2 separate regions of the Homo sapiens genome follow, and region 2 is linked to region 1. A link means that fine-mapping ties the variant in region 1 to the expression of a gene that starts in the linked region. Tissue or cell type: whole blood. Region 1 holds a variant in brackets; the other region holds the start of a gene. All regions are shown on one strand. Distances are from middle to middle. Region 1 overlaps LPAR3 (lysophosphatidic acid receptor 3). Region 2 holds the start of LPAR3 (lysophosphatidic acid receptor 3).

The links.
Region 2: it holds the start of LPAR3, and the variant in region 1 is fine-mapped to the expression of LPAR3 in whole blood (INTERVAL, PIP 0.95).

What each region holds. Positions count from the first base shown.
Region 1 is chr1:84,859,017-84,874,353 of GRCh38, reverse strand. LPAR3 (lysophosphatidic acid receptor 3) reads left to right here. Exons shown (of 3, transcript NM_012152.3): 2 at 8,216-8,969. The coding sequence starts at 8,234. Among named protein-coding and RNA genes, the nearest start is that of LPAR3, 27 kb to the left of the region's middle. The variant G/AG (reference allele first, on the strand shown) is at 6,811.
Region 2 is chr1:84,886,529-84,901,865 of GRCh38, reverse strand. It overlaps LPAR3 (lysophosphatidic acid receptor 3), which reads left to right and starts at 8,660. Exons shown (of 3, transcript NM_012152.3): 1 at 8,660-8,850.

The DNA of each region.
Region 1 (15,337 bases):
TGTCCTCCCTGCCTAAAGGTCTCCAAAACTTGCACTGACACAAGAACCTGTTTATTCTGCTGAGCTCAGGCTGCAGTTTTCCCTGCGTGTCACCATCTCTGAGCTGAAGATGACCTGAGATGCTTAAGCTTTGCGTTTGTATTAAGTATTTTCCCAAGCACACCCATTGTACGCTTGCCTCTCTGTGGCTTCTCCTCTTGGAACCTCTACTGACCAGTATTATGGAGACTTTGTTGATACGTGAAACAGGATCCAGATCAGAGCAATTTTAGGTGTCTGAGTTTAAGATTTGTTCTAAAGAGGCTGGGCACCATGGCTCATGCCTGTAATCCCAGCACTTTGGGAGGCTGAGGCTGGCAGATCACTTGAGGTCAGGAGTTCTAGACCAGTCTGGCCAACACCGTGAAACCCCGTCTCTACTAATAATACAAGAATTAGCTGAGCATGGTGGCGGGCGCCTGTAATGCCAGCTACTCCAGAGGCTGAAGCAGGAGAATCACTTGAACCCGGGAGGCGGAGGCTGCAGTGAGCAGAGATTGTGCCACTGCACTCCAGCCTGGGTGACAGAGCAGAGACTCGTCTCAAAAAAAAAAAACAAACAAGCAAAACAAACAAAAAAAACTGTTCAAAAGAAGCAGAGTAACCAAACCCAAACTTTAGCAACACTGAGGGTTTAGCTTTCTCAAGAGAAATGATCTAGAGTATGAAGATACAGAAACCGAATTGTAACCCTACCCTTAACAAGCACCCCTCTAATAAACATATTCGCTTTATCCAAGAATATCAGAGGCATCTCATTCTCAGTTACAATGTCTGTTTAAATTTAATTTTGAACAAATTGCCACTCCTCTGTTTATTTTACCATATCAAAGAGTAAAGTAACTGCTTATGAAAGACAGGGGCTTTATTTATTTTAAAATTAGTGTAGTAGAGTCAACAACATGCCTCCTCTTTAAAAGTTATTTTTAATATTTGTTTATTTACAGAGCAGTCTTCTATATACAGAAAAATTGAACGGATAGTACAGAGAGTTCCTATGTTATAACCCCTCCCACACACAGTATCCCTTATTATTAAATCTTACATTACTGTGGTATATTTGTTGCAGTTAATGAACTGATAGGGATATGTTAACGTTAACTAAAATCTGTACTTTGTTTAGATTTCCTTAGTTCTTACCCCTATCCTTTCGGTGTTCCGGGATCCCACCCAGGATCCTTATTCTATTTAGCCATTATGTCTCCTTAGGCTCCTCTTGGCTGTGACCGTTTTTCAGGTTTTCTTTGTTTTTGATGAGTACCAGTTTTGAGGAGTACTGGTCAGAAATGTTGTAGAATGTTCCCCAACTGCGATTTAGCTGATGTTTTTCTCATGATTAGCCTGGGGTTATGGGTTTTTGGGAGGAAGATCACAGTAAACTGTGATTTACTCTCTGATCTTCATCATGAAGTAATACATCTTATCAAGATTACAGACTAGCAATATGACTTATCACTGTTGATGTTGACCTTGATCATCTGGCTGAAGTAGTGTTTGTCAAGTTTCTCTGCTGAGACGTCACTAACTGCCCCCACCGCCCGCCCCATTTCCATATTGTGCTCTTTGGAAGGAGGTCCCTGTGTACAGCCTACATATAAAGGAGCTATGCTCCCCCTCCTTTACAGCGGAATATCTATGTTATTTATTTGGTATTCTTCTGCCTGGGAGATTTGTCTCATCTTTCCATTTATTATTTTTTTCAATAATTTATTTATGTCAGTATGGACTCATGGATGTTTATACTTCGGGTTATAATCCAGTACTACTTTATTTTGTTGCCTGGATTGTTGTAGCTTTGGCCATTGGGTCCCTCTTTTGAAGTATTATTCAAAGAGGAATCTTTGTTTCTGGTGTTCATACTAATAGAGAGAGGTCTCTATTGTGAGACTGTCCTTCAGAACGACCCTGACTGGTCTGCTCAGGTGAGCTGCTTTTCTGGAGGTAGGGAACCCACTCCTTATACCTCTCAGCTTGCAGGACTTGGAGCCAAGTCTCCCCAGAGGAATAAATGGGTTGTGAGACCCAAATTAGAGAATATGCAGAAGAAGCATAAAGTAATAATGCTGAATTTGGGTAAAGGTTAGGGAGCATGTAGACATGAGTGCACAAGCATTACTTCATTTAATTCTACATTTAACAAGTATTTACTGAGTGCCTAATGTGTGCTGGGCATTGTTGCAGGCACCATAACAACATACGTTCTCTGCCTTCCTAAGCATAACTTCATCAAAAACAAGGAAAATCTGAAAAACTGTCACAGCCAAGAGGAGCCTAAGGAGACATAATGACTAAATAGAAGTTGGGGAGATAGACCGTAGCCCAAGTAGATAGTTGAGGTATGGAGAAATGCTGTGGAGAAAAATAAAGCAGGGTAAATGGCTTAAGTGCAGCAGCGGGTGGAGGCTTGGGGTGCTCTTTAGAGAGTGGCAGGGAAAGGATCTCTGAGGAAATGAATTTGAGCAGGAATGAGGTAGAGAAATGAGCCCCCTGGGTATCTTGGGGAAAAGTCTTCTGGGCAGAGGGAATGGCAAGTGCAAAGGCCTTGAAACTATGGCTAAAATGAACCTCTGGGATTTCATGTGGATTTAAATCTTCCATGCTATCCTGATTTTGCCATTAACATGAATTATTAAAAGGAATTCAGTGAACAGACGTGATTGCTGACCCAGGATTGGTTGCTAGAGTACCAACTAACCTAACATCCAACTCCCATCTGGATAGAGTTTCCTAAGAGGAGAGGACTGGTCTACATTTGTGAACCACAGAGAAAGAAGATATGCTCAGTATTGACTGACCATGTCTTTGATGTACCATACTTCTTTCTAGGAGGAAGGAGAGATTGTTATTGAAAGCCAGCTAAAAAGCCAGGCAGCAACTTGTCTCATAAGATGTAGCTAGAAATAAAAGCTGCTTGAGTGGTTTTCAAATGTCTTAATTCTCATAATTGTTTCCACATTCTGGGCTGGCTGGACATTTTTTCAGGGAAGCAAGTTTGGAAGAGTCTAAATGAAAGCTTTGCTCATGAAGTTTTCATTTGGATTCCACATATAGACTTTCTAAACCATCATTTTATGAAGTCTTAAATTACTGAAGTTTGAAGTTGTGGTAATTGCTCCAAAGTTTAGCATCTTTTTTTTCTAGGTTAGAACTATCAGACCCTCTAAACCTTTAGTATAAAAACAAACAAACAAAAAACAGCTTGGGATTTGACAGAAGTAAAGTTGAGCAATGTTAACCTGGTCCTGAAATTGACCATATTGTATCCTACTTACCATAAAAGTTGAAAACATATTTTCAGAAAAGTGTCTTCTCAGGGTTAAGAAAAAAAAAGGCCAAAGGCTATTTAGAATGCCCTCTATTTTTTATAGCATGGGGCAGTCTTTTAATGTGATTTGATCAGATCATTCTATTTTGGTAATTCTGTAACTCTTGTAAGTATAAATATAGTCCTTGGTTCTGTCTGGCGTTTCACATGCCTGTGGAGATAAAGTATAGTGTTGCAGATAAGAATGCAGGCTGTAGAACGAGGCTGCCTGAATAGAATCCAGGGTCTCCCACTCCTAGCTGTGTAACCTTAGGCAAGGGTGCTTCAGTTTTCTCAAATGCATAATGGGTGTAATAATAGTATCTACATCATTGTTGGGAGGATACCATGAGATAATCCATGTAAAATGCTTAGTTCAGCACCTGGCACAGATAAGCACTCAAATATTAATAATGAAAAATAGTAATAATAAAGTAGAGATATTAAGTAATGTACCTGAAAACACTTAGTTAATAGGTGACAGAGCTCGCTACTTGTCATACTTAGTGATTGATGTATAAGTCAGCAAAGGCATTTCACAGAACCTTTTCATTTTAGACATGGAAAAAGATAGTGTAAGACAGAGATTCATTCATTCATTCAACAAATACTGATCCTGTAGATATGAGCATAATAGGCAGGTTCCCTGCTTTGCTGGAGTGGAACGGTCTAGGGGTGGGAGATGGACAATAAATTCTTAAGCAACAAAAGAAAATACTGGGTCACAAGCAACTGGGTAGCTCTGATGGAGGTAAACCAAGGGCTCTCTGAGAATGAGAGCTGTGGAGCTATCTTGAATTAGTCAGAAAAGTATCTTTGTGGAGGGGACATTGAGACTAGGACTGAAGTAACTGATTAATTTGTTCAAAATCACAGAATCATATTTTAAGGGTTAAGGGAGGCCAAGAGATAATAATAAATCAGTCATTTGTTATAAGCTTGCTAAAAATTTTTGGTAATTCTAGCTAAGACAGTATGATAATCTGTAGATAACGTGTACTGGGGAGATCTGTGGTGATGGCATTAGGCAATGTTTTATAGGAGAATTGGTGAAAGCTACATCCTTGTGTGGTCAGGGTTTTGCAAGTCAAGTTTTGGTTATGTGAAGATTAAGTAGAAAACTATTTTATTTTTGTTGTCACTGAAAAACCCTGAAGTGTGCTGTGCTTGTAAGAATAAACTGAACATATGCAAATCTTTGAGGCTTTTCCTTTGAACATTAATTTTGATTTTTCAAAGCCATAATTGTAGAAGATAGAATACATTAAGTAGAATATATGCTTCTAATTAAAAGTCTTGATTTACTTATTACAGAAAATGTGGTAGATGGAAAAAATTAGAAAGAATTTTTAAAAAATGACTCACAGTTCCACCATTCTTAACTATTTACATTTTGAGATTTTTTTTCATTATCTTTTTCTATATAGTCAACACAAATAAATTTTTGTTATGTGTATTGTATATTAAAGCAATGACATGGGCTTTTTCTTGTATTACCGCAACTTCATAGTGAGTATGTTTTTCATGGACTGTATAGTATTCCATCCTGTGCAATCTTTTTCACCAATTTCCTATGCGAAGTTTTTTTTCTCTCATTACCTGTTTCTCTCAAAAGTAGGATCTGGAACCAGGGTACAGTGCTGCTTAGTGGGAGTTCTGGCTAATCATAGTTTTTCTGTGATGTCTCAACTTTGTCAGACAAAATTGCTTTGCAGTCTCAGGGCAATTTTTGCTAAAAACATGTCTTAAACTGTTTTGGTTTTGACAAGGGACAGTTGAATTTGAAGATTTTTGAAGTAAAAATCATTGAGGTGTTAGTGCTTGATATAATTAAAAATTCGACCACATGTAAGAAATAAAACTAAAATGTTAAGATCCTTCAAAATAAAATTAGGAAAATTTGAGTAGTATTTTTGTAGTGTCTTAATTCCAATGTCTTTGTGACATATTCATCTTTATATTTCTAATAAATTAGTCAAAGATAATATAACTTTTAAATTAGAAATGTTTCTCTTAGATGTATAGAGCATGAAACAAAGTAAAATATATACATTATTTTTAATTAGAAAAGACACATAATAATTGTATTATTAAATTTTCCCATGTGGTGTCTTAGTCTATTCCTGTTGCAATAATAAAAATACTTTAGGTAATTAATAAATAACAGAAATTTATTGCTCACTATTCTGGAAGCTAGGAGGTCCAAGATCAAAGCATCAGTAGATTTGGTGTCTGGTGAGGGCCTGGTCTCTGCTTCCAGAAGGGGGCAAATGCTGTGTCCTTGAATGGCAGTGTGGCAAAAAGGGTCTCACGAGTTCTCTCAGGCCTCTTCAATAAGGGCACTAATCCCATTCACTTCCCAAAGTCCCCACCTATTAATATCACTGCAGTTAGGGTTAGGTGTCAACATGAATTTTGGAGGCACACAAACATTCAGACCATAGCAAGTGATTCTCGGATTGTTTGTCTTGAATTTCTGTATACTTTCAACATGGTTGAAAGCTGTATTTCTCTTTAAATATTTAAATTGAGTATCACTAGATTAGCACCTTGTATTTAACTCTCATATGCTGCTGGTAGAATTAAAAATATGATCTCTCAGGCTGGGTGTGATGGCTCATGCTTGTAATCTCAGCACTTTGGGAGGCCAAGGTGGGCGGATCACCTGAGATCAGGAGTTCGAGACCATCCTGGCCAACATGGTGAAACCCCGTCTCTACTAAAAACACAAAAATTAGCCGGGCGTGCTGGCATGCGCCTGTGGTCCCAGCTACTCAGGAGGCTGAGACAGGAGAATCACTTGAACCCAGGAGGCAGAGGTTGCAGTGAGCCAAGATTGCACCACTGCACTCCAGCCTGGGCGACAGAGCAAGACTCCATCTTGGAAAAAAAAAAATGCTATCTCTCTTAAGTGGAGTTTCACAAGATGTATCAGAAACCCTTAAATAGATTTATATCCTTTACTTCAATTTGAAATCTATGGGTTATTCCTAAAGAAACAATTGGCTAGATATATAAAGATTAATGAACAAGAATGCAGCCTTGCTTATAAAAGTGAAATACAGGAAGCAACCCTAATGTCCAGTATTTAGGATTAGTTAAGTCAGGTGTGGCCTATTCATATAATAGAATATTGTGAAGCTATTAAAATTATACTACCTGTATTTTTAATTTGGGGAAATTATGATATAGTGTAAATATATGATATTATCATGAATTTATTTGATATTTACAGTTAAATATTGGTGACTGTCTGCCAAAGAGAGTAATTTTTATTTTGTCATTATGAAAATTGAGTCTTCCTTTCTTGTAATTGAAAGATACTGGAACCATTTGTCTCTTGAGACTACTCCCAGTTTTTTTTAAGCATATAAAATGATATTTACCTCCCATTTGCTATGGCCAAAAAGCAATATCTAATTCATGTAAAAGTATCATTATACCATTAAAATATAAATTAAAAAAAA[G/AG]ACTGAGATACATTTCTATTTTGTACTACTTAATAGTTATCTGGTCTTCTTGATTCTGGTTGTGGTATTAGATTTCAGAATTTTCAGGAACTTTAAAATCTGGGGGCTTTTACTGAGCTTTTACTGTCACAGCTCCCAGAGGGCTGCTCAGTCCCTCTGCCGACTGAATCTCTGGTTCTCCAGGGAATAAGCTGCAGCCTCATTCTCAGTGAGGGAGCAGATGGTCATTCTTCCAAGAAGCTAGAACCCTGACCCTAAGCCCAATCTTCTTCCGTAGGACCGTTCATGGCTGTGGCCAGACCACTGTGAGGCAGAACACTTGGTTTTCCCCACCACGTGTAGACAGATGGGCATCCGTGGGGCTTCTGCCCAGCCCTTCCTTGGCCAAGATCCCTCGCTTTTGGGATTCAAGAGATCTTTTACTGAGAGGATTAGTGTCTTCCCTGTCTGCCTGATATCCCAGTTTGGGGTCTTCTTTCAGACAAGTGTCTGAAGAACATGCCCTCACTTAATAGATATGTTCTCACATCCACATTGAGTTGGAGATCTGCCCCAATTCCAAATCTCAGTCTTGCCTGTGGAAGCCCGATCCTCCTCCACCTGCCGTGTTGAGGAATGCTGGAAAATCCAGTGAGCAGGTTCACATTGGTACAGTTTGGGTTAGGAGACTATAAGGAAGAAGTGAACAAAAGGTAAGGAAGGGAGATATTGGGACCAAAGTCTCCATCCCTGCATCATATACCTAATATGTGAATATCAGAGTTGTTTGTTGAAACCAAAAGATGGCAAAAGGAGGATCAGGAGTGGAATCAGAAGTCATAGAAAACTGGTCTCTTGGGGTATCTGTTTGGTTATGTGAATGGTAATTCAACTCCTATTATCTTGGGAAGAATGTACCTGAAATTACCAACCTGCCGTTGATTAATGAACATATCCATAAATAACTAATGAACTGGGAGCCAGGAGGAGGCATTAACATAATGTGTTGTCATTGTGTTACCAGTGCAGAGTGGATATTGCAGGGCTCAGCACATTTGCCCTGTTGATGCCTCCATGAGAATTCATTCATTCATTCAGCCAGCCAGCCAACCTACCAATAATTACCCACCATGAGGCAGACAGAGCAACTGAATCCTAGGGTTGTAATGGTGAACAAAATAGAGATACACCCTCCTAACCTGAGCGGCCTAGCCTGGGAAACAAACAATTAAAATGTGCGCTAAATGCTGTGGTAGGAGGTCAGGGGCTATGTCCTGGACCAAAGGACATTTGCACTGAGACCTGACACTTCAGGTCTTCAACTCCCTTGATGGGAGTTAGCCAGAACGGGCTTAGAAACAGCAATTGATGGCTTAGTGACTGATTTTACAAATGATATTTGTTTCTTCTTTAAATTTCTTTCTAGGATGTTCACTTCTCCACAATGAATGAGTGTCACTATGACAAGCACATGGACTTTTTTTATAATAGGAGCAACACTGATACTGTCGATGACTGGACAGGAACAAAGCTTGTGATTGTTTTGTGTGTTGGGACGTTTTTCTGCCTGTTTATTTTTTTTTCTAATTCTCTGGTCATCGCGGCAGTGATCAAAAACAGAAAATTTCATTTCCCCTTCTACTACCTGTTGGCTAATTTAGCTGCTGCCGATTTCTTCGCTGGAATTGCCTATGTATTCCTGATGTTTAACACAGGCCCAGTTTCAAAAACTTTGACTGTCAACCGCTGGTTTCTCCGTCAGGGGCTTCTGGACAGTAGCTTGACTGCTTCCCTCACCAACTTGCTGGTTATCGCCGTGGAGAGGCACATGTCAATCATGAGGATGCGGGTCCATAGCAACCTGACCAAAAAGAGGGTGACACTGCTCATTTTGCTTGTCTGGGCCATCGCCATTTTTATGGGGGCGGTCCCCACACTGGGCTGGAATTGCCTCTGCAACATCTCTGCCTGCTCTTCCCTGGCCCCCATTTACAGCAGGAGTTACCTTGTTTTCTGGACAGTGTCCAACCTCATGGCCTTCCTCATCATGGTTGTGGTGTACCTGCGGATCTACGTGTACGTCAAGAGGAAAACCAACGTCTTGTCTCCGCATACAAGTGGGTCCATCAGCCGCCGGAGGACACCCATGAAGCTAATGAAGACGGTGATGACTGTCTTAGGTAGGTAAGAGGACCCAAGCAAGCCATCATTCCCATTCATTCAGCAAATCTTTACGGAGCATCTGTGGTGTACCAGGCACTTACTAGGCAGTAAGAATGCAGCAGTGAACAAGAACGGACATAAATCGCCACCCACCTGGAGCTTACACTCTAATAAGGAAAGATAAAATAAGTATTCTAATGGGGGTAAACAAATTAAGTGAAATAAGATGAGTCTCCTGTGGAAAAATCAATCAGGGAAGGAAGGAAAAATAAAGCAGGGAAGGGAGCTGGAGAGTGCTAAGCTAAGCAGGTATCGTTTGCACTTTAAAAAAGTGTTGTGAGGGATGCCTGGAAGATGACTTTTGAGCAGAGGTGTGAAGGCAGTCAGGGAGTGAACCATACTGGTGTCTGGGGAAGGGTGTTCCAGGTGGGAGAAGCGGTAAGCACAGGAGCCCTGACCAGCCAGGAAGCCACTATGGCTGCATGGATCGAGCAGAGGGAGTAGGAGAAGATGAGGTCAGGGAGCTGGTGGGGTAGGGGATGGGCTACTCAGATAATGTAGGGTCATGTGGTTATAAGGACTTCAGCTTTTCATTTTTTTTTCTTTTTTCTTTTTTTGCCGGAGCCTCACTCACTCTGTCACCCAGGCTGGAGTGCAGTGGTGCCGTCTCAGCTCACTGCAACCTCCACCTCCCGAGTTCAAGCAATTCTCCTGCCTCAGCGTCCCAAGTTGCTGGGATTACAGGCAGCGCACCACCATGCCCAGCTAATTTTTGTATTTTTAGTAGAGATGGGGTTTCTCCATGTTGGCTGGGCCAGTCTCAAGTGAGATGAGAAGCTATGGGAAGGTTTTAAACAGGGGAGTGACATGATCTGACTTATATTTTAATGGTATCTCTCTGGCTACTGTTTTAAGACACTGCTGTAATGAGGCAATAGCAAAAACAGGAAAATTGTTTAACCTATTTATGCCTAGTGTTCCATTATTGGAATGCTAAGCTTGTGGGAGTTATTTATATCCTACTGCTCAAGGTCATTGACAAGTTCTGATTTTTCACAAAAGAAATTTGCAACCCCTGGCATAAATGGGTTAATAGAGTATTTCAGTACTCGGGAGAGATCACCATGGCCAGATGGTAGTTGAAGGTGATGGTCAGATTCTGTTTTTTTGTTTTTTGTTTTTTTTTTTTTGAGACAGGACCTGGCTCTGTCATCTAGGCTATAGTGCAGTGGTGCAATCTCAGCTCACTGCAACCTCCACCTCCTGGCCTCAAGTGATCCTTCTACCTCAGCCTCCCAAGTAGCTGGGATTACAGGCCTGTGCCACCAGGCCCGGCTAATTTTTGTAATTTTTTTAGAGACAGGGTTTCACCATGTTGCCCAGGCTACTCTCGAACTCCTGAGCTGAAGCCATCCGCCTGCCTCGGCCTCCCACAGTACTGGGATTACAGGTGTGAGCCACTGCACCTGGCCAGATTCCAGATATTTTTTAAAGGATTTACTGATGGGTAAGGTAGAGGGGAAGATGAGAGGTGGAGGAGAAGGTGGGGAATGTCATTAACCAAGATGAGGAAGACTGAAGAGGAGGAGGTTTTGGGGGAAGATTTGGTTTTGGACAAGCTAAATTTAGGAACCTATTAGACATCCAAGGGGTGTGGCAATTTTATTGAGTGGACAGTTGGATGTTTGACTCAGGAATTCAAGATTTAGGTCTGGGCTGGAGATGTACATTTGAGAGTCCTGGGGGGAAACTGGTATTTTAAATCACAGGACTGCGTGAGCTCACCATGAACGTGAATGTGGATATGAAGGAGAGGAGGACCAAGGATGGAGCCGTAGGGCAGGCCCTCCAGTGTAAGGAGGTCAGGAGGTAAGGGGCAGCCAGCAAAGGAGCCCTAGAAGGGATGGAAAACCCAGGAGACTCTGGGGAACTAGAAGAAAGAGAAGAAGGCAATCGAGGAGAGGAAGCATTAGCAGTGTTGGTACCCCTGAGAGGTGGTGTAAGACCAGGTGTTGCTGGCCTTACCAAAGTGGTGGACTTGTGCTGATCTTGAGATCATCACATTTGGTATAGCCAAGAGCCTGATTGGAGTAAAATTGAGAAAGAAAGGAAGAGCCTGGGCAACATGGTGAAACCCCATCTCTATGAAAAATACTAAAATTAGCTGGCCATGGTGGTGCATACCTGTAGTCCCAGCTACTTGGGTGGCTGAGGTGGGAGAACCGCTTGAACCCGGGAGGTTGAGGTTGAGTGAGCTGTGATCACACCACGGCACTCCAGCCTGAACAACAGAGTAAGAGCCTGTCTTAAGAAACAAAAACAAAACCAAAAAAAAAAAAAGGGAGGAGAGAAAGGTTGTGAGCCCTGTACCAAGAAGACATGTGGTTTCGTAGAATTTTCCCTTTGTTTTATTTTCTCTGAAGTAGGTGGCCTATTGCCCCACCTCCCCAGTTCTAATTCTGGGTTACAGGTAGAATTTGTAATGTGTGGGCAGACAAGAACTTTTGTGGTTTCACAGAACTTGTCTTGTAAGGCAGAGAGGCCGTTTCTCACTGTGTGTGTGGCTGCAGCAATGGGGACTGTTGCTGAGAGAGATTCAGGAGTACATTTCTGTCTACTCCTTATGAGAAGGAATTATAAAATGAATTATCAGGTAGCAGTTCATAGTGGAGGATACAGTATGTGTGGTGTGGTATAGAAACCCTCACAATGCCTCTAGGTCCTGAAACTGCTAGTAAGATTTGGGGGTCAGCAGACACAGAGTGTGATTGTTAAAATAATTTCAAACTGAGGATTTATTTAACAAATATTTATATAGTGCTTAATATGTGCCAAGCATTGTCCTAAGTGTTTTTACAAACATTAACTTATTTAATTCTCATGGAAACCCTGTGAGATAGGTGCTACTATTATACCCATTTACCAGATGGAGAAACTGAGAGTTTAAGCAGTGTGTCCAGTCACTCAGCTGTTAACCAAGACTCACTGCGCAGCTGGCCTCTAGAGTTCACATATTTACCACCATACTCTGTGGCTACTTGTGATTTATCTGGACTTTTTACGCTCATCTTTTTGTCCTGTCTTCTGCTTTGACACCGTTGACACATTGATAAGAAAATGGACAAGAACAAGAAAAAGAGGGTTCACATTAATCGGCATTTCCCCTCGAGCTGGAGAAGATATTGATGTTTTTGATAAAGAATGAACTTTGGTATTTACAGATAGTGTCAATGAACTGTGCTGCTGTCCCTGCTTAACTTGTAGGCATAATCATTTGCTTGGCTATGTGTCTTGAGAAATTACCCGCCTGCTTAAAAAGAAAACTTTCTTTTCTCATCATATTATAATATAGTATACAGCATGATAGAGACAAGGATTCCAAAATCCTAGGTGGAGAGAACAGGACCCTTTGTGAGACAGTCATGGTCACAAACTTCAGTTTTGTATGTAATTTTGTCTGCAACAGTTACGGAAGGGGTTAAAAGAAAGGAGCTGGGAGGTTTTGGCAGGTGTGGTATTGACTAAGAGAAAAACCAGAATGAACAATTAAATTTCCAAGTAGGATAAGAGAAGTCATGCAATTGAGATAAGACAACATTGGGGAATTGGTTAATGGAAGAAAGACAGTTTGGTGTCAAGGACCTCAGAAGTTCCTTAATGGTAAGACAGAGGAACCTGGTGGAAGACAGGAAGTTCAGGGACGAGGGAAATGAAACTCAAGAGCTAGGTGGTGTAAGGCTGAAGACTTCCAGCTCCTGATTTCTCTAGATAACAGAAAGATTTGGGTTTTACCCCCAATTCTTTCATTTTCTACAAGGGTGATCTGCAGCACATCAGCTCATCTTTTCTTGGTTAGATTCCCTCATCAGGTGGCATAGACCATCTTTAAGTTCTTTACAAGTTACAAAGTTCAATTATCCTTTATGACAGTTAGTAACCAAAGGTGGGAATGAAAAGGAAGAGTGGAGAGAGAGAGAGGGAGAGAGAGATTGAGAGAGAGAATATGAATCTTGTGGGGCAGCACCAAACATTTCTGTGGATCCAAGCACAGAGCCTCTTTCCTTGACAGCAGCACCTACCACAGTATCTTCCTAGGGAGAAAGCCCCCAGTTCCCTACATACTACATGTAAGAATTCAATTGCCTGAAACAAGCATCTCCCAAATGATAGTATATTAGAAAAATCAACAGTGCTGGCATTAACCATCATCTAATCACTGGTTCTGATTATGTGGAGATGAATAGCTTAATACTCATGTTTTTAATAATTGGAGGATTTAAATGTCTTTATGATAAAATGCTAAACATTTCCATTTACTCCTTGATACATATTTTGTAGGAAAGATTCATTTAAGATTAAATCCATCCAGGTGTGGTGGCTCACGCCTATAATTCTAGCACTCTGGGAGGCCGAGGCGGGCGGATCACTTGAGGTCAGGAGTTTGAGACCATCCTGGCCAACATGGTGAAACCCCGTCTCTACTAAAAATACAAAAATTAGCTGGGTTTGATGGTAGGCACCTGTAATTCCAGCTACTCAGGAGGCTGAGGCAGGAGAATTGGTTGAACCCAGGAGGTGGAGGTTGCAGTGAGCCAAGATGGCGCCCCCGCACTCCAGCCTGGGTGACAGTGAGACTCCGTATCAAAAAAAAAAAAAAAAAAAAAAAATTAAATCCTAAAGTTTCTTACGAACCCTCTTCTTTTACATATTAGAAAGTCAGTCTCTAAGTACATATTAACTGTCTATTAAACAGTATCTAAGAGGTACATGGTTGCATGAATTCAGTGAGCTTAATCTTATTTCAGAAGAGGAAAGGATGGACAGGGGCTGTTGAGTGTGGAGACGGCTTCTTAATGGGCTGGGATGTAATCTGGAAGGATAGGTGGGATTTGCATGGGCTGGAGGAAGACACATTCTAAGAGGGAGAAATGGCATACTCAGAAGTGTGATGATAGAAACATTTAAAGCTTGTGCATTACCATGAGGAAGGCCCCACAGAGTACAAATACTTGCTGTGGTGCGGTGGAAAAATAGCTCACCTGTGAACCAGCAAAGTTTAGTTGGCTATCCTCTTTGGAAGGAGAGTAGACCAGATGACCTTTGTGTTCCTTTCCAGCTTTGGGATTTTGGTTGAACACAAAAGCTAACAGCATGGGGATTCAGACTCTTTCCTTGAGGGTAGTGGTGGTAGTGATGATGGTGATGTGAGTTTTCAATCTGTGTGTGCATGATTGGAAAGGCATCAAGGCATCATGTTCCCGTTTCAGCAGCCCTGAGGCAAAATGCTTGCTCACTTCTGGGTTAGAATGTGTGATGGGGCCCTTTATGTGAAAAAAGTTGCTTATTGAATGTTCTCATTGAAAAGACATCGGAGACATACGATCCTGCTTTCCAAAGAGCACCAAGGCCCTGCCTAAGAAAGGGTTTTGAAATCTTACTTGTCAACAAGCCTAATCAGCTACAGCAACCAAACACACAAGAAACCCCACATGGAAACGTCTAATTTATTGTCAAACAACACACCATGTGAACTGTGCACACAGAAATGTTTTGTTATTTCCCAGAAAATGGGCTGGACTTTGCTTTATTTTGCAGTGTCTTAAAATACAAGAGAAAAGAAAGAGGGAAGGGACTTGCAAACCATTCTTTTGAAGTCTTCCATGAACCCTCCTGTCCTTTAGTGATGTTTTTCAAACTGTAAGTTTTGATGCACTGATGAGATTGTAAGCAACACTTTTTAAAATGACATAAAAAGAAGAGAAAATGTCAGAGTGTGTTGCATTTAACAGGTATCAATATTGTTTTATAACCTTTCTTTGCGTGCCTGTGTGTGTGCTGGGTTGTGATATAAAATGTATTTCCTATCATGAGTTATCGTCAAGAACGTTTGAAAAACCATGATCTTGAGGGTCAAGGTTTATTTTTCTGCCAGAAAGCACTGAACTCTTTTAAAATATGAAACATTATCGTTGTTAAGGGACTTAGGGCTTGTGGTAATTAAAACAGGGAGCTGGTTGTTTTTCTTCTCACTTCTTCCTCCCTCCTCTCCACTTAGATTGATGCTAAATCATCCTCTTTTGTCTCTTAGGGGAGAGAGGAAGAAGGCAAAGTAGCAGTAAGCAACGAAACGATAGCTCAAGTTCTCATGCTAGGAGGAAATGGGTGAAAATTAAGTACCATAAAGAGCCTTGCCAGAGTACTAATAATAATCACACATGATGTTTCTGCAGTACTGTGTCTTTTTCAGTTTTAATACACTGTTCTCTTTGGTCTCATGGAAATCCTGCCAAGCAAGTAGTTAAGGTATTATTATCCGATTTTCCTGCAACTCCCCTAGATGTATCCTATACTCAAGCTATAATGAATTATTTGCGCTTCCCCCATT
Region 2 (15,337 bases), 28 kb before region 1:
ACTGCTCGAGAGAAAGGTGCACCAAAATCTCACAAATCACCACTCAAGAACTTACTCATGCAACCAAATACCACCTGTTCCCCAAAAACTATGGAAATAAAAAATTTAAAAAATACATAGCCTATCTTGGTGAATATTACATGTGTACTTGAAAACACATATTGTGTAGTTGATGGGTGTTAACGTTTATAAACACCAATCAGGTAAGTTAGTTGATGGGGTTGTTCAAATCTTCTATAACCTTATTTTTTTGTCTACCTGTCCTATCAACTATTGAGAAGTGTTAGAATCTCCAACTATAATTAGGGATTTGTCTATTTCTCCCTTTGGCTCTGATAATTTTTATTTCATATAGTTTGAAGGTTCATTATTTGATGAGTTGATCATTTTATCATCATGAAATAATTGTTTTTTTCCAGGTAATAAGCACATTTAAAAAATTACCACAATATATTTTATCTTTTTAATTTCCACTGCATTTGGTGGTAGGTACTATTACTCCATTTATAATTGTAGAGACTGAGTGAAATTGGCCAAGGTTTTTAACTAGTAAATATGGTAGAACGTATAAAAGTTTTCAAACTTGAAGGCTGGGTGCGGTGGCTCAGGCCTGCAATCCCAGCACTTTGGGAGGCTGAGGTGGGTGGATCATGAGATCAAGAGATCGAGACCATCCTGGCCAACATGGTGAAACCCCATCGCTACTAAAAATACACAAATTAGCTGGGTGTGGTGGTGCACGCCTGTAGTCCTAGCTACTCAGGAGACTGAGGCAGGAGAATCGCTTGAAGCCGGGAGGTGGAGGTTGCAGTGAGCCGAGATTGTGCCACTGGACTCCAGCCTGGTGGCAGAGCGAGACTCCGTCTCAAAAAAAAAAGTTTTCAAACTTGACAGCGAATCTTAGAAGTCATGGGCACTTTAATTAAGTCCTATAACATGTTTCAGTTTTATTCTTTTGTTTTTCACAACTTTTTACTTATATGCTTATTTCTACACACATTGGTCATTATTTTCCTCACTCATATTTATACTTTGTACCCGTCATTGTTATTCGCCTTTGCTATACTAGTTCTATCACAACACAGCATAATGAAAGTAAGCCATGTCCAAGTAATTAAAAAACCTAATATTGAACCTCCTAGAAAATCTATTATAGCAAGATCATTTATCATGACATATTTTCTTGCTGGTAAGTAATAACTAAATTCTTTCAAAGTGAAGTATAAAATTGTGTGATTTACTTGTTTTAATATGTTTCTGTCATAATATTATAGAATCCTATTTAATCGTATATATTTTTTATTTCAAACTGTATGACATCAAAGCCTGAAAACTTCTTAGCCCTTGATCTTCCATTTTAAAGGCATCAGCCCTCTATTTCAGAGGAACTAAAGGTTAAAGCTCTGATTTTTTTTTATAGTGCATTCACATTATCTTAGTCTACTGTGTTAGTATTCAAATTACACAAAAACATTAAATATTAATCTGGCCAGTGCCCCTCAAATCCAATTGAAAAAAAATCAATCCCGGAGATGAGAATGTTAGTGTCATATTACAGCTTTCTTTTGCAAAACAAGGAAAAAAGTTTAGTGCATAGAATGAAGAAAATTCTGGCAGGATTTATTTACAACTATTTCCTTTTTCAGGTTTACTAGAATAAATATTTGTGCAGCTGAATGTGTTGCTAGAAGCAGATCCTTGATGGCTGCCTTAGCAAAGCCAATATCTAGGCATAGCATGGACATCAGGCTTGGGGGAAGGTAGTCTACTATACAAGCTGCTATCATTGTCCACACATGACTTCATCTTTGCCTAGGTGGACCCTCAGCATTCCACAGTTGTTGAACTCATGGAGTCTCCATAATGTTCTCTTATCTTGGTGAAGTGTGTATACATATCTCAGGCTGCAAACTTAGGCAGACAAACATACAACTATTTTTGTAAAAGCGGATCTGAATTCTATCTTGAACCTCCTATTTCTTTCTTTCTTTTTTTTCCAAGACCGAGTCTCACTCTGTTGCCAGGCTGGAGTCCAGTGATGCGACCGCGGCTCACTGCAACCTCTGCCTCCCAGCTTCAAGCAATTCTCCTGCCTCAGCCTCCCAAGTAGCTGGGACTACAGGCACCTGCCATCACGCCCAGCTAATTTTTGTATTTTTAATAGAGACGGGGTTTCACCATGTTGGCCAGGATGGTCTCGATCTCTTGACCTCTTGACCTCGTGATCCGCCTGCCTTGGCCTCCCAAAGTGCTAGAATTACAGGCATGAGCCACCGTGCCCGGCTGAACCCACTATTTTTATCACTGACTGAATAATTTAGTCGTATGGCTTTCCAGGTAAACTTGGGCAAATGCAACAGTCTCAGTCATTTTAAGTTTATATTTAGGCTTCTGCCCCTCTCATTTTCTCCGTGTGGCATCTAGGTTCTAAAGAGATTTTAAGGTGTTCAGGTGTTGGGGTAGAGTGGGTGGGTGGTAAACACCTGGCTCACTACATTCCTTTGGGGGTGATTCTCCCTCCTAATCTTTGGATGCTGGCCTCTGTCCCTGCTGCATTCACCACCCAGGTTTCCTTTTAGGTATTTAGCAGCAAAGAACTGACTTGAGTGCTATTCTCCATCACTCTGGGGCTCACAGGAAACTGTGGATTCAGTCCCTCCTGTGTCTATTTCTGCCATGTCACCACTTCAGTACTGCTGCTCCCCATATCAGGTTGGTATGAAGCACTTCCATTAATATTTTCTATCCAAGTCTCAGATGGAAAGCAGGGCACAGTACAATATTTCAGGGGTCCCTAACCCTGGGGCCACAGACCAGTACCAGTCCTTGGCCTGTTAGGTACAGGACCACACAGCAGGAGGTGAGCAGTGGGCCAGTGAGTAAAGCGCCATCTGTATTAACAGCCACTCCTCATCACTTGAATTATTGCCTGAGCTCCACCTCCTGTGAGATTTACCAGTGACATTATTATAGAGTCTCATAGGAGCACAAACCCTATTGTGAACTGCACGTGCGAGGGATCTAGGTGCGGCTCCTTATGAGAATCTAATGCCTGATGATCTGTCACAGTCTCTCATCACCCCCAGATAGGACTGTCTAGTTGCAGGAAAAGAAGCTCAGGGCTCCCACTGATTCTACATTATGGTGAGATGTATAATTATTTCATTATATATTACAAGGTAATAATAATAGAAATAAAGTGCATAATAAATGCAATGTGCTTGAATCATCCTGAAACCATCCCCCACCCCTGTCCATGGAAAAATTGTCTTCCACAAAACCGGTCCCTGGTGCCAAAAAGGTTGGGGACCTCTTCTCTATTTGTATCAGTCAGGGTCATCTGCGTTATGCTGTGGTAACAAATGCTCCCCAAATCTCAGTGGCTTAGAAAGACTAAGGTTTATTTTTCACTCGCCTGGCCTTCCTGGGTCAGCCATGGTATTTCTCCATGCCTTGTGCTCTCCTAGATCCAGGCTGGTGGAGCTGATATTGCTGATATCAGGGTAGAGGAAAAAGAGAATAAAATGAACCTTGTGCTGGCTAGAAAAGCTCACATTTTATTGGCTAAAGCAAGTCAAATGGATAAACCTGACATCAATAAGGCAGAGAAGTTGAATTCTCCTCTGGAAAGGGGCAGCTTATATTATTTATTTATTTTTATTTTAATTTTTTGAGATGGAGTCTCGCTGTGTCGCCCAGGCTGGAGTGCAGGGGTGCAATCTTGGCTCACTGCAAGCTCTGCCTCCCGGGTTCATGCCATTCTCCTGCCTCAGCCTCCCAACCAACTGGGACTACAGGCGTCCACCACCATGCCTGGCTAATTATTTTTTTTTTTAGTAGAGATGAGGTTTCACCGTGTTAGCCAGGATGGTCTTGATCTCCTGACCTCGTGGTCTGCCCGCCTCAGCCTCCCAGAGTCCTGGGAGTACAGGCGTGAGCCACTGCTTCCAGCCAGGGGCAGCTTATATATTTTTTATTTTTTATTTTTTGAGACAGAGTCTTGCTCTGTCGCCCAGGCTGGAGTGCAGTGGCATGATCTCGGCTCACTGCAAGCTCCGACTTGCGGGTTCATGCCATTCTCCTGCCTCAGCATCCTGAGTAGCTGGGGCTACAAGCGCCTGCCACCATGCCCAGCTAATTTTTTGTATTTTTAGTAGAGATGAGGTTTCACCGTGTTAGCCAGGATGGTCTTGATCTCCTGACCTTGTGATCCACCCACCCCTGCCTCCCAAAGTGCTGGGATTACAGGCATGAGCCACCGCACCGAGCCAATATATTTTTAAATAATAATGCAATCTACCACTTTATTCCTGGGTTCCTAAACTTGAGCGGAGACCTAAGTGTCCCTAATAACTTAGCCTGAGGAGTGGTGAGAGGTCAGAAATACCATGCTCATGGCTTTCAGTGCTATCTCTTCTTCAATTCAAATTCTCCTCCCCAGGTCAGGAAACCCTATCTAACCTCCAGGGAGGGTGGTCTGGTTCTTCATCTGTTCTCTTCTAATTGACTGTTTATGGACAAAACATTCATGTTTCACTTCTTTCTGCACTTAGCCCTTTGAAGCTCCAGAAAACCCATCTTTTGCAAAATCACAAACCTTGGTGTTTAAGATTAGTTTTTCTGCTATGAATTTTAAAAAATCTATTTACAAGCTGAGAATTGATTTCTTTTATTCTTTCTCTTTTCTTACTTTTTTTTTTTTTTTGAGATAGGGTCTTGCTCTGTCACCCAGGCTGCAGTGCAGTGGTACAATCATGGCTCACTGAAGCCTCTACCTCCTGAGCTCAAGCAATCCTCCCACCTCAGCCTCCTGAGTAGCTGGGACCACAGGTGCACATCACCATGCCTGGCTAACTTTTGTATTTTTTTTGTAGAGACGGGGTTTTGTCTTCTTGCCCAGGCTGGTCTTGAACTCCTGGGCTCAAGTGATCTGCCCACCTTGGCCTCCCAAAATGCTGAGGTTATAGGCATGCCAGGTCCGCTTTGTTTTTTCTTTTAAAAATTTGTTGTTTTTTTTTGGTGGTTGTTTTGTTGTTTTTGTGTCCACCCTTGATAAATGCTCTCAGAAAAAATAGATTCTCTTGCCTCAGTGAGCTGAGTAGTCATGAGGGCAATAAGGAATGGTATTAAAAGAAAACCTCAATTATTGTCTCCAGATAGAATTTCCTCAAAACTGGAAGGTAGGTAAAGTAGATGTGAAAGTAAAGCCTGCTTGGATGGGAGCTTTAGGGTGTTTTGTCTTGAGTGACTGCTCTAAAGCATGCTTACTGTAGTAGTGGTGGATTATCACTTTCCATCCCATAATCTCCAATGCTCTTTAGAAAGGATTTGTAAAAGATTTACAATGCTAGCTTCCTATTTTCTGCTTGAAACTTCCCCTTGAGAATTACAATATTTGCCTACAGTATCACACTAGCCAAGCTCACACGTATGCTAAAGTAATACTCAAGTGAATGTACATGAAATTACAATGAACCAGAAACCGAGTAAAACAGGGAGCTTACCTTAGATTCTGTTTTTTCAACATGTTGGTTTTTATTTTTGATTTTTTTATTTATGGACTATTTCCATGACTTTCAATTGAAGTCACTCATATACTACTGAGAGATACTCCACAGGGCCACCTACCATTCTTGTACTCTCTTTGCCAGTAGTTTCTATGGAGTTAACTGTTTGCTCAGTCTTTTCTCAGAACTGTTATTTCAGGTACCACTTTCATCTCTCACATTACAGCTCCCATTCCACTTTCTCACACTATCCACCTGCTGTAGGCATCCTCATTGCTAATTAGTATAGATGAGCAAAATTCAGCAGAGATTCAGTTCAGATACTTCCCAAAGTTAAGAACAACACATCTGTGAATTCCTGCCCATATGATTGAAGCCCCAAGGTGAGCTGGGGACAGAGGAACATGGCCTCTTTCCATAAATCCAGAGAGGAGGAAGCCTTGCCTGAGTCCCACATTGCTTCTCACTGTGGAAGGAGGCAGGCAGTTTTGTGTTTTTTAAACTTACTTTGTTTTTTGAGACAGAGTCTCACTCTGTCACCCAGGCTGGAGAGCAGTGGTGTGATCTCAGCTCACTGCAACCTCTGTCTTCTGGGTTCAAGCGATTCTCTGGCCTCAGCCTTCTAAGTAGTTGGGATTACAGGTGCACACCACCATGCCTGGCTAATTTTTTGTATTTTTTGTAGAGATGGGATTTTACCATGTTGGCCAGGCTAGTCTTGAACTCCTGGCCTTAAAGTGGTCCACCAACCTTGGCCTCCCAAATATCTGGGATTACAGGCGTGAGCCACCACATCCACCCCCAATTGTTCTTTCAGCCATCACAATTTCATTCTATCAAGCACTGTGGAATGCCCCTTTTACCTCCTTATAGAAACAACGTTATAACTCTTTGTGTTTCCAGGAACACAAAACACAACACTTGTATACATGAAGCTGACTAGCAAATGTTTGTTGAAAGTTTTGAATGACTTTCCAGCCAGTGATCTCTAAGACAAAATACACCCTCAGCCTTCATCCTTGCCATTTTGATGTTAATTTTAATTTGGCTTTGCTAATAAAAACATTTCGGTAGAGAAGTGAGACACCACAGGCCAAACAAGGATTTGTAGGAGGTTCTGGTGGATAATCCCTGGGCTACCTTCTAAAAACTAGGAATTGGGGGCCACATCTTTCTTTTTAGTTGTCGTTTGCCTCGTCTTTTCTTTTCCTGCTTCTCCCCATAGGTGTTTGTTTGTTTGTTTGTTTATCACTGCTTTTCCTCTCTGAATCTGTTTCTCTGTAACACCTTCTGGCCTTCCCCTCACATCTGACCCATCTAGCTGTTAAAAACCATCTATCTGGAAAGTCTCTTTCCTTTTGCAACACAGCTCCCCATGCCCTCTTCACTTTCCTCCTTTTTTAAGGATTCAGATTCAACTCTGTGGGATCCCTGTTCTGCTTTGCAATTACCTCGAGTTCAGGAAGTTCCCAAGGTACAACATAATGCAACATAATGTGTTTCCCAAGTGCCTTTGTTAGTAAGTTGTTTGGATTCAGAACAGATTTTCCCAGCAAAAGAAGGCTCTTAGTGGTGTTTACAGTCTAGCCTGCAACATCTTACTCAACATACTACACCTTTGTTGCGTCAAGTATTCAGTAAATGCTGGTGGTTGAGTATTTCTGTGTTTACCAGGTTGCCCTTCAGCACCGTGATGTTTGAGCTGAGCTGTTCTCTCCCTTGACAGAGAGAGCTCTTTCCGACCCCCGCCCCTCCGAGACGGAGTCTTGCTCTGTCGCCCAGGCTGGAGTGCAGTGGCGCGATCTCGGCTCACTGCAACCTCCGCCTCCCAGGTTCAAACGATTCTCCTGCCTCAGCCTCCAGAGTAGCTGGGATTACAGGTGCGTGCCACCACGCCCGGCTTTTTGTATTTTTAGTAGAGACGGGTTTTCACCATGTTTGCCACCGAGCTTTTTTATCATATGCAAAGCTTCTGCTTGTAAAAGTAAACACATGATCTTTCTTTAGCCCTAGCTTCGCAAGTTGTACTTCTCTCTACACAGTTCAACTGCAAGACACCGCAATAATTTTCTGAACACTTAGATGAAACAATAATTTTCACATGCTGATGAAAACTTAGCTGTAGCCCCGGGGAGGTTTGAGGCACATTAGGCTATTATGGTCTATAGGATAAGACCCACGGAGTAAGGGACGTAACCTTATTAAAACATCCTCTGCAGAGAAAACAGAATCTCTTTGATGGTAGGGGACAGATTATCTAACAGGTTGTTTGCAAGGATGAGGTTCCTAGCTGGCACACAGAAGGGCGCAGTATTAATGGTGAATGCAAGATGAATGAATGAACGGATGGATGGATGGCAAAGGGTCACAGGAAGACATCTGGGCACACAACTCTCATTGCTTCCTAAGGGCCTGAAGTCTGAGTGGGAAGGACTTCACCTCACAGTATTTCCTTTTTGTAAGGTCACCAGGAAAGCACAACTTTGAACATTTCTGTGACTTCGTTATTGCTTTGCAGAATTCAGAGAGAACAATGCCTTCATGACATTTGTTTTACTTTGCATCTTTCTTCTTTACTAAAGGTGGGTCAGTGGAGGTTTTATATTTCAGCTTTGAAAAACAAAGTATCCAGGACTATTTGCCCCAGGAGGCCAAGAAACCTCTTACAAGAACCTTAAATATTGTTGGTTGCCTCTGGGGGCTGTCCGCACCCTCGGGTAGCTTTGGGGTTGAGGTTTCCAGCGTTAGGTCGGGCTTGGAGTAGAGCCTGCCTCCCACGGGGGTGGTGGGTGTGGGCTGCACTTCCCGCAGCCACTTCAAACAAATCTCTGAGGACAGAGGGGCAGAGGGACTGCGTTCTAATACGGAGCTCCGAGGTATGGCTCCGTGAGGCTTGTGGGTACTAGCGGTCCTTTAGTGGGCGCTTTTCCCTCTCGGGGCCGGCCGACCACCCACCTGGGGACGATCCCAGGCAGGAACGCGTCTGCAAGAGCGCTGCCCTCCCGCGGCTCGCACGGGCCCCTTTGAGCGCAGCTCGCGGCCTTGCAGGTTGGGGACGCTCTCCAGTGGGAACGTCGAACGCACCCGGCGGGGCGGGGCGGGGCAGGGAGGGGCCGCTGTCCCTAGGTCCCTCCCTCGCACCGCCAAACTTTCCTTTGGCTCTGGACGCGTCGCAGGGGTCGCTGGAGAGGAGGCGCTCCGCCCGCCCGCCGCGTCCTCCGCTGCTTCTCCGCGCCCGGCTGGAGCCCGGCGCCCGGTCGCCCCGTCGCGCTCGACCCCGAGGGCATGCGGCAGCCGCAGGGGCCCCCGCTCCCGGGCTCGGCGGCGCGGGTGAACGTGAGCGGTGAGTGAGGGTCCGGGCGCAGGGAGGGTACCCCGAGCCGCAGTCACCAGGGCGTGCGTCGTGGGGAGGCCGGGGCGCAGCGGCGCCTGCAGGGCTCTAGCCTGCGGCTTTTCGGGGTTGCCTGGCGTGCAAGCCTGGGCTCCAGACCCACTCCAAACCCCGGGACAAGACTCTCCCGGCGGGTGTATGGCACAACTTGCTCTTTTCCCACCTTTTTCCCCGCTAGGAGCAAAAAGCAATCTAGATGCAAAATCGGCGTTGCGTCCGCTGCTGAGGGCTGGCGGGCTGGGCGCAGAGGCCAGGAGAGCGCCGCACGGGTTGCGTCTGCCTTTGCACACGTGGTTCTTTCCAAACTCAGTCTCATTGCCATCGATGGTGATTAGGAAACTGGGGTTCTCTCGTGAAGCCTAGGGATATAACATTTTTCAGCCTCCAGTTACATCTGGTACTGTGCTGTGTCCGCTGGGGAACAGCTTGAACCATGTGCAGGCTTCTAGAGATTCGGGAACTAGTAACTAGCAACACTGTCGGGGTTGTTTGTTCAGGGTATGCCCCCTCACCACCACGAGACAAAAGTGCTTTTGTTCTGTAGCAGAGTTACTTTATTGCTTTCCCTCAACAAGTTGCAGCTACACAAAATTGCTTAGAAATTCCGCACGCATGTAATTTGAGGAGTGACTGTGAATATTGGAAACAATTTAGTCTTATTAAGGTAATCATTAAAATGGCCCTGAAAAGCATTTGTAGGTTAGTTTTTATTTATTTATTTATTTATTTATTTATTTATTTATTTATTTATTTTTGAGACACAGTCTCGCACTATCATCCGGGCTGGAGTGCAGTGGCGCGATCTCGGCTCACTGCAACCTCCGCCTCCCAGGTTCGAGCGATTCTCCTGCCTCAGCCTCCCTAGTAGCTGGGATTGCAGGCGCCCACCACCACGCTAGGCTAATTTTTTGTATTTTTAGTAGAGACGGGGTTCCACTGTGTTGGCCAGGCTGATCTCGAACGCTTGACCTCGTGATCCACCCTCCTCAGCATCCCAAAGTGCTGGGATTACAGGTGTGAGCCACTGCGCCCGGCTAGGTCAGTTTTTTAAACTGAGTAATTTCCACGAAATGTTTCCCCCGTAATTTGTTATTGTCATTACAACGCTTTTCTTCCTCCTTTTCCTCCGAAAGTAGCATTACCTGGTCTTGAGATGCCGTTTAGAAATAAAGGGCTTTCTCACGGTTCCAACTTAGTCTGTATCAGAGAATAAAGTAAATGTCAATTACAGACAGACAATCAATCTCCTCTTTACAAATTCCATGTACCGCACAACGTTTCATTAATGCATGGACTTTTGTATCGCTGAGAAGAGTTGCTGGATTTTCCATTGATCCATCAACAGTTGCTAACCCTGCTTTCCATGGGCAGTGGATCTGATATTTAGTGGCCTGAGTCCAGTAAACAGAGTTTTCCTCTTTTTGGGACAGAAGTGATACGGTTAGAAACACACACCTTGGCTCTGTTAACCCCAGGCTTGTCTAAACAAACTGGACTATACTAAAAAGACGAGCGAGCAAACCCTGCCAGTCAGAGTTGTGTACTTGAGATAAGCTTCCAGAGTTGTCTCTTGTGCCTTGAGACAGCAAGGAACTAGTTATCCTGTGGAGATCTGGACGTCTAACTATTTGGACAACACTTACATTGATTGTCACTATCATATAACTAAGAAAATAGGTCATTTTGGCAAAAATTTTTTCTTTGTCTTTAGAATTTGAAACTTTGAGGTTTTGATTTAATTACATATGACACTCCTCTTGTCTAAACCTTTCAATTGCATTTATCAACTACCACTCTTTTTTTTTTTATCAGATCAGACCTATTTTAGATATCTTGCTGTTCTGCAAGATATTTGTTAGAACAGGCCTGCATATGTTTTCTATGAATGGAGACTGAATTTAAAACATTAAAGTATGAGATTGTTTTTCATGTGTGTTCACCGGAATCTGTTTAAGAAACTACAGCATGTTAACTCTCCATCTCATTTTTCAGAAACACACGTGCACAGTGGAAGAAATGCACACACAGCATTGTAGCCAGGCAGCACCCAGACACACACTCTCAACATCACTTATACACACATGCCTAAGGCTGGCTGCTTCTCCCCCAAGTTTCTCAGCCTGCTGCTGAGGAGCAGCAGTGCGTGATAACTTAAGACCCGCCTCTTATTTCTTTGGGCTGGGGCAAGGGGAATCACTATAACTGAAATGGGAATTACTGTACCTCAGATTACCCATTAGCCATTCTCCTTGGAGTATACATTAGTTCAAATGCTTTCTGGCCTGTGATTATACCCAACAGAGTGGTTAAGTCTGTTTGCAGGATTCTAGATGGCAGAGACCAGGCCCAAGGCATTATTAATGCAGTATAAATGGAAGACCAAGGCTTTGCAGTCAGACCAGCTTTTGTTCCAGTCCAAGCTTTGTGACCTTGGGCACATAGCTTCACCTCTCTAAGTCTTAATTTCCTCATCTGTAAAAATGAAGATTATATCCATCTCCCAAGATTAAAAGAGAAAGCACTGAGCATGGTCTCTCATATACAGGAAGTACTCCTTAAATGCTGGTTGCCCTCTTTTCCTCCTAGATAAAAATTTAAGTATTAACACTTGTGTAAACATGGGTGCAAATGTATATTCTGGTAAAAGTGCAAAGATTTCTAAGCCTTAGATGACTTAGAGATGTTATACACACTTTTCTTACTTGCTTTCTCTTTTCCTGGCCATGGGCCTTTTGTTCCTCCCTTCGTCATTCCTCCTGCAGGTACTGAGCCTCCCCCTTTCCGGCCTTGATGATCCTTTGTTCCTCATCCTGGATTCTGTATTTGTGGAGGAGTCACCTGGAACTCAGTCCTGCTGTGGATGGCAGAGGTGGTGATGGGGCTGGGGAGCTATCTGCATAAGTGCAGAGACTTTGTGCTTTTACAAACGGTGGACTAGAGGTACTTGGAGCACAGGGTTCTGTCTTTGAATCCTAGTCCCACTTTTGTGAGTTCTTGTGACCCTGAATAGATTGTCATGTTTAAGTTTTTTTCATTTATATAGTGGGGATAATAATTACTTTTCTACCTGTCTACATGGATTGTTAATGAGTTCCATTAACTTATGTACGTGAAAGAGCTTTGTACCCTGTGAAGAGTGCATAAACATTGGAATTAAAGAGGCAGGACATCCAGATGTGGGCCACCCCAGGCAGGCCCACTCAGCTCTGGCTATTGGGGGTTGGCAGTATCTCCACAAGCATGTTTTGAGTGCTAAGGGGGCACTGCTGCAGTTCTTCCATATTCCTCTCTCCCGTCCTCTGACATCATACTGGACTTCGAGGAGGAAATAGCATCAAAGGTTGAGAAACTGCTCTGTGGGGAATATGAGAGGAAGTTAAATTTCAGGACTGAGGTTACCCAACACTACATGATCGAAGGCATAGGGCAAAGTTCCAAAGAAGCTTTAATTTCGTGTTGGAATTACCTGTACTGTCTGCGCATCTCAGTTCTTAGTGGACAAACACAAACAGCTGGCCACCACCCATCCCACAGGTCAGGAGGAGGGTGCTGATGGCAATGTTGGACAATGTATTGGGTCCACCTATACCATCCTCACTCCCCTGTGCCTTCTTGCTGACTTGGGTCTCTAGTTTACTCTGCAAAGTTCTAAACTGACCAAAGGCATTGCTCCCCCACCCCCAAATTAAGCTAATTACTTAATTCAGTCTGAAAGATATTTGTTGCTCTCTACCTGTCCTGGCAAGCCAGCTGGAGGGTGGGGGAGGGGATTTAGTACCATTGAGGGGAAGGTTCTGACATCCTGGGTTATACCCACCCCTCTCTTCATCACCCCCAGTCTTATGTCCTCCTCTTTATTCCTCTTCCTTGGCTGGCCTCTTGTCCTGTGTATCTACAACCTTGAACTCCTCCCTTGCCCATGACCCCTGATACTGCCCTACTCCCATGATTCTGTCACCCCTCTTCAGATGTGAATCATTTGTACACCTCAGGCTGGGCCAGACTGGGTGTCACTGTGGAAAGCAACCTGCCCAGCACAGCCTGCCCCACCCCTTCCTGAGGATGTTCATCAACCCCTCTAATTACTCATCAGCTAGTCCTGTGTCTACATTGTTCCCTGGGACATTAAGCTGGAGCTTCTACTAGCCCTGGCCTTGACTCACCCATGTGCAGATTGACCAGTTATCAAGGGATGGCTTGGCAGGTGGCAGGGCTGGGTTGGAGGGCACATTAGCCCCTCCATAAGTGCACTATTTGGTCCAAAGGCCTTCCAAGCAAACATGCGGTCTAAATAAAAGCAGTGTATTTGCTTTATAAATGCAGCTTTAAGGCAAGCCCCTGGTCTCCCCTTTTAAGCCAAGCTATCCCGAAGCACATCCTCTGTAGAAATTCTGGAGCTGCCCCCAGACAGACTCAGACCATGTAATTCAAAGATAGGCAGCGGAGTCTATCAGCAGCATTCACTCCCTAAGGAGGTAGAAAGCCAGAGTTAAGACTCAAAGCCATTGGCAGTGACTAGTTATAGAAAACCAAAGCAAGGGATCAAGTATAGAATTTATTGGGAGCACATCAGTGAATCATTTACCTCCTGCCCTGTTTGATTTTTAGTAAGTCAGTTCGTCGAATGGGGGTAAGGAAGGCCTTTCTCTGGACAAAAACTATCACATGGGTCTGGTGAAGAGAAAATAAGTAGTATAATCTTTTTCTATGTCTCCATGGCATTAGGTTTGAAATCTCAATCTCTCCCTCTCTCTCCCTCCCTCCTTCTCTCTGTCTCTGCCTCTCTCTGTGTGTGTGTGTGTGTGTGTGTGTGTGTATGTATGTATATATATATATATAAAATATACATCATCAGTCTTTATTCTGAGAGGAAGTCATAGACATTATTCTCCATCACTCTTGAAAACACTCCAGCATAAAAAAAAAAGCAAGCACTCTGTCCTCCTATATAACCAGCGTACACCCATCAAATCAGGAAATGGACATTGATACAAAACACTATCATCCAATCCACAGAGCCCATTCCTATTTCGTCAGTTATCCCCCAAATGTCTCTTCTACCTGTCTGATCTAGGATTCATGTTACATTTAGTTACCATGTCTCTTCTGGAACGGTTCCTCAGACTTTCCCTGTTCCTAAAGTGTTTGCAGTTGTATAGGTCCTACATGCTGTAGGATGACTCCCAACCTGGCTGTATTGGGTATTTCTTCACAGCCTGACTGAGGTCATGCATTCTTGGCAGGAATCCTTCAGAAATGAAACTCAGCTCTTCTTAGCTTCTTACAACAGAAGGCACATGGTGCCAACCCATCCCACTGCTGGGATATTGACCTCAATCACCTGGTTATGTTGGTGTTTGCCAGATTTCTTCACCTTAAATTCGCCATTTTTCCTTCGTTTCCCTTTGTTTCCCCAAAGGTGTTTGAAAACACCTTTGTACTAGTGTTTGTGGGGAACTATTCTAGGGTTATGCAAATAGCCTGTTCCTCATTAAACCTGTACCTACAGAAACTACCATTTATTGATGACGTCTGCCTGAATCAGCCACCTCTATGAATGTTGCCAAATGGTGATTCTTTTTTTTTTTTTTTAAGACAAGGTCTCACTCTGTTGCCATGCTGGAGTGCAGTGGCATGATCTTGGCTCACTGCAGCCCCAACCTCCTGGGCTCAAGTGATCCTCCTGCCTCAGCCCCCCAAGTTGCTGGAACTACAAGTGCACACTACCACACCTGGCTTATTTTTTTTTTTTTGTATTTTTTGTAGAGATGGAGTTGGTTTCACCATGGTGCCCAAGCTGGTCTCGAAATCCTGAGCTCAAGTGATCCACCTGCCTTGGCCTCCCAAAGTGCTGGGATTACAGGCATGAGCCCCTGCACCCAGCCTCAAGTGATGATTCTTTATCACCGTCACTCTTTCTACATTTGTTAGTTGGCATACTACTATAAGGAAGAACTTTATTTTTCTGTTATGTTTTTACTAAGAACTGTTCATGGATTCCTTATGTATTCAATAAGTTGAAGTCTCACGATTGTTTTTTATTTTAATGCTCAAATTGTGCTCAATTTGGCCAATGGGGACCCCTTGGAGCTGCCTCCTGTGTCCTTTTAACACATCCCTATTATTCATTGAGCATTTCTTTATTTTCTGGCTCCACCAGATCATCTGGACTCATCTTCTACTTTCCTTGACCTAGTTAGGCCTCCCTTTTAGTAGAGAATGGTACTTTTGTCTTATTTATATTTTATATATTTAAGGCATACAACATGATATTTTCATGTATTTATCTTGATAAACATAGATGTAATGAAGTAATTACTACAGTCAAGCAAATTGACATGCCCATCATAGTTACCTTTCTTGTGTTTGTGATAAGAGTACCTAAAATCTACTCTCTTGGCAAATTAGCAGAATACAATATTTATTAATTTTAATTTTT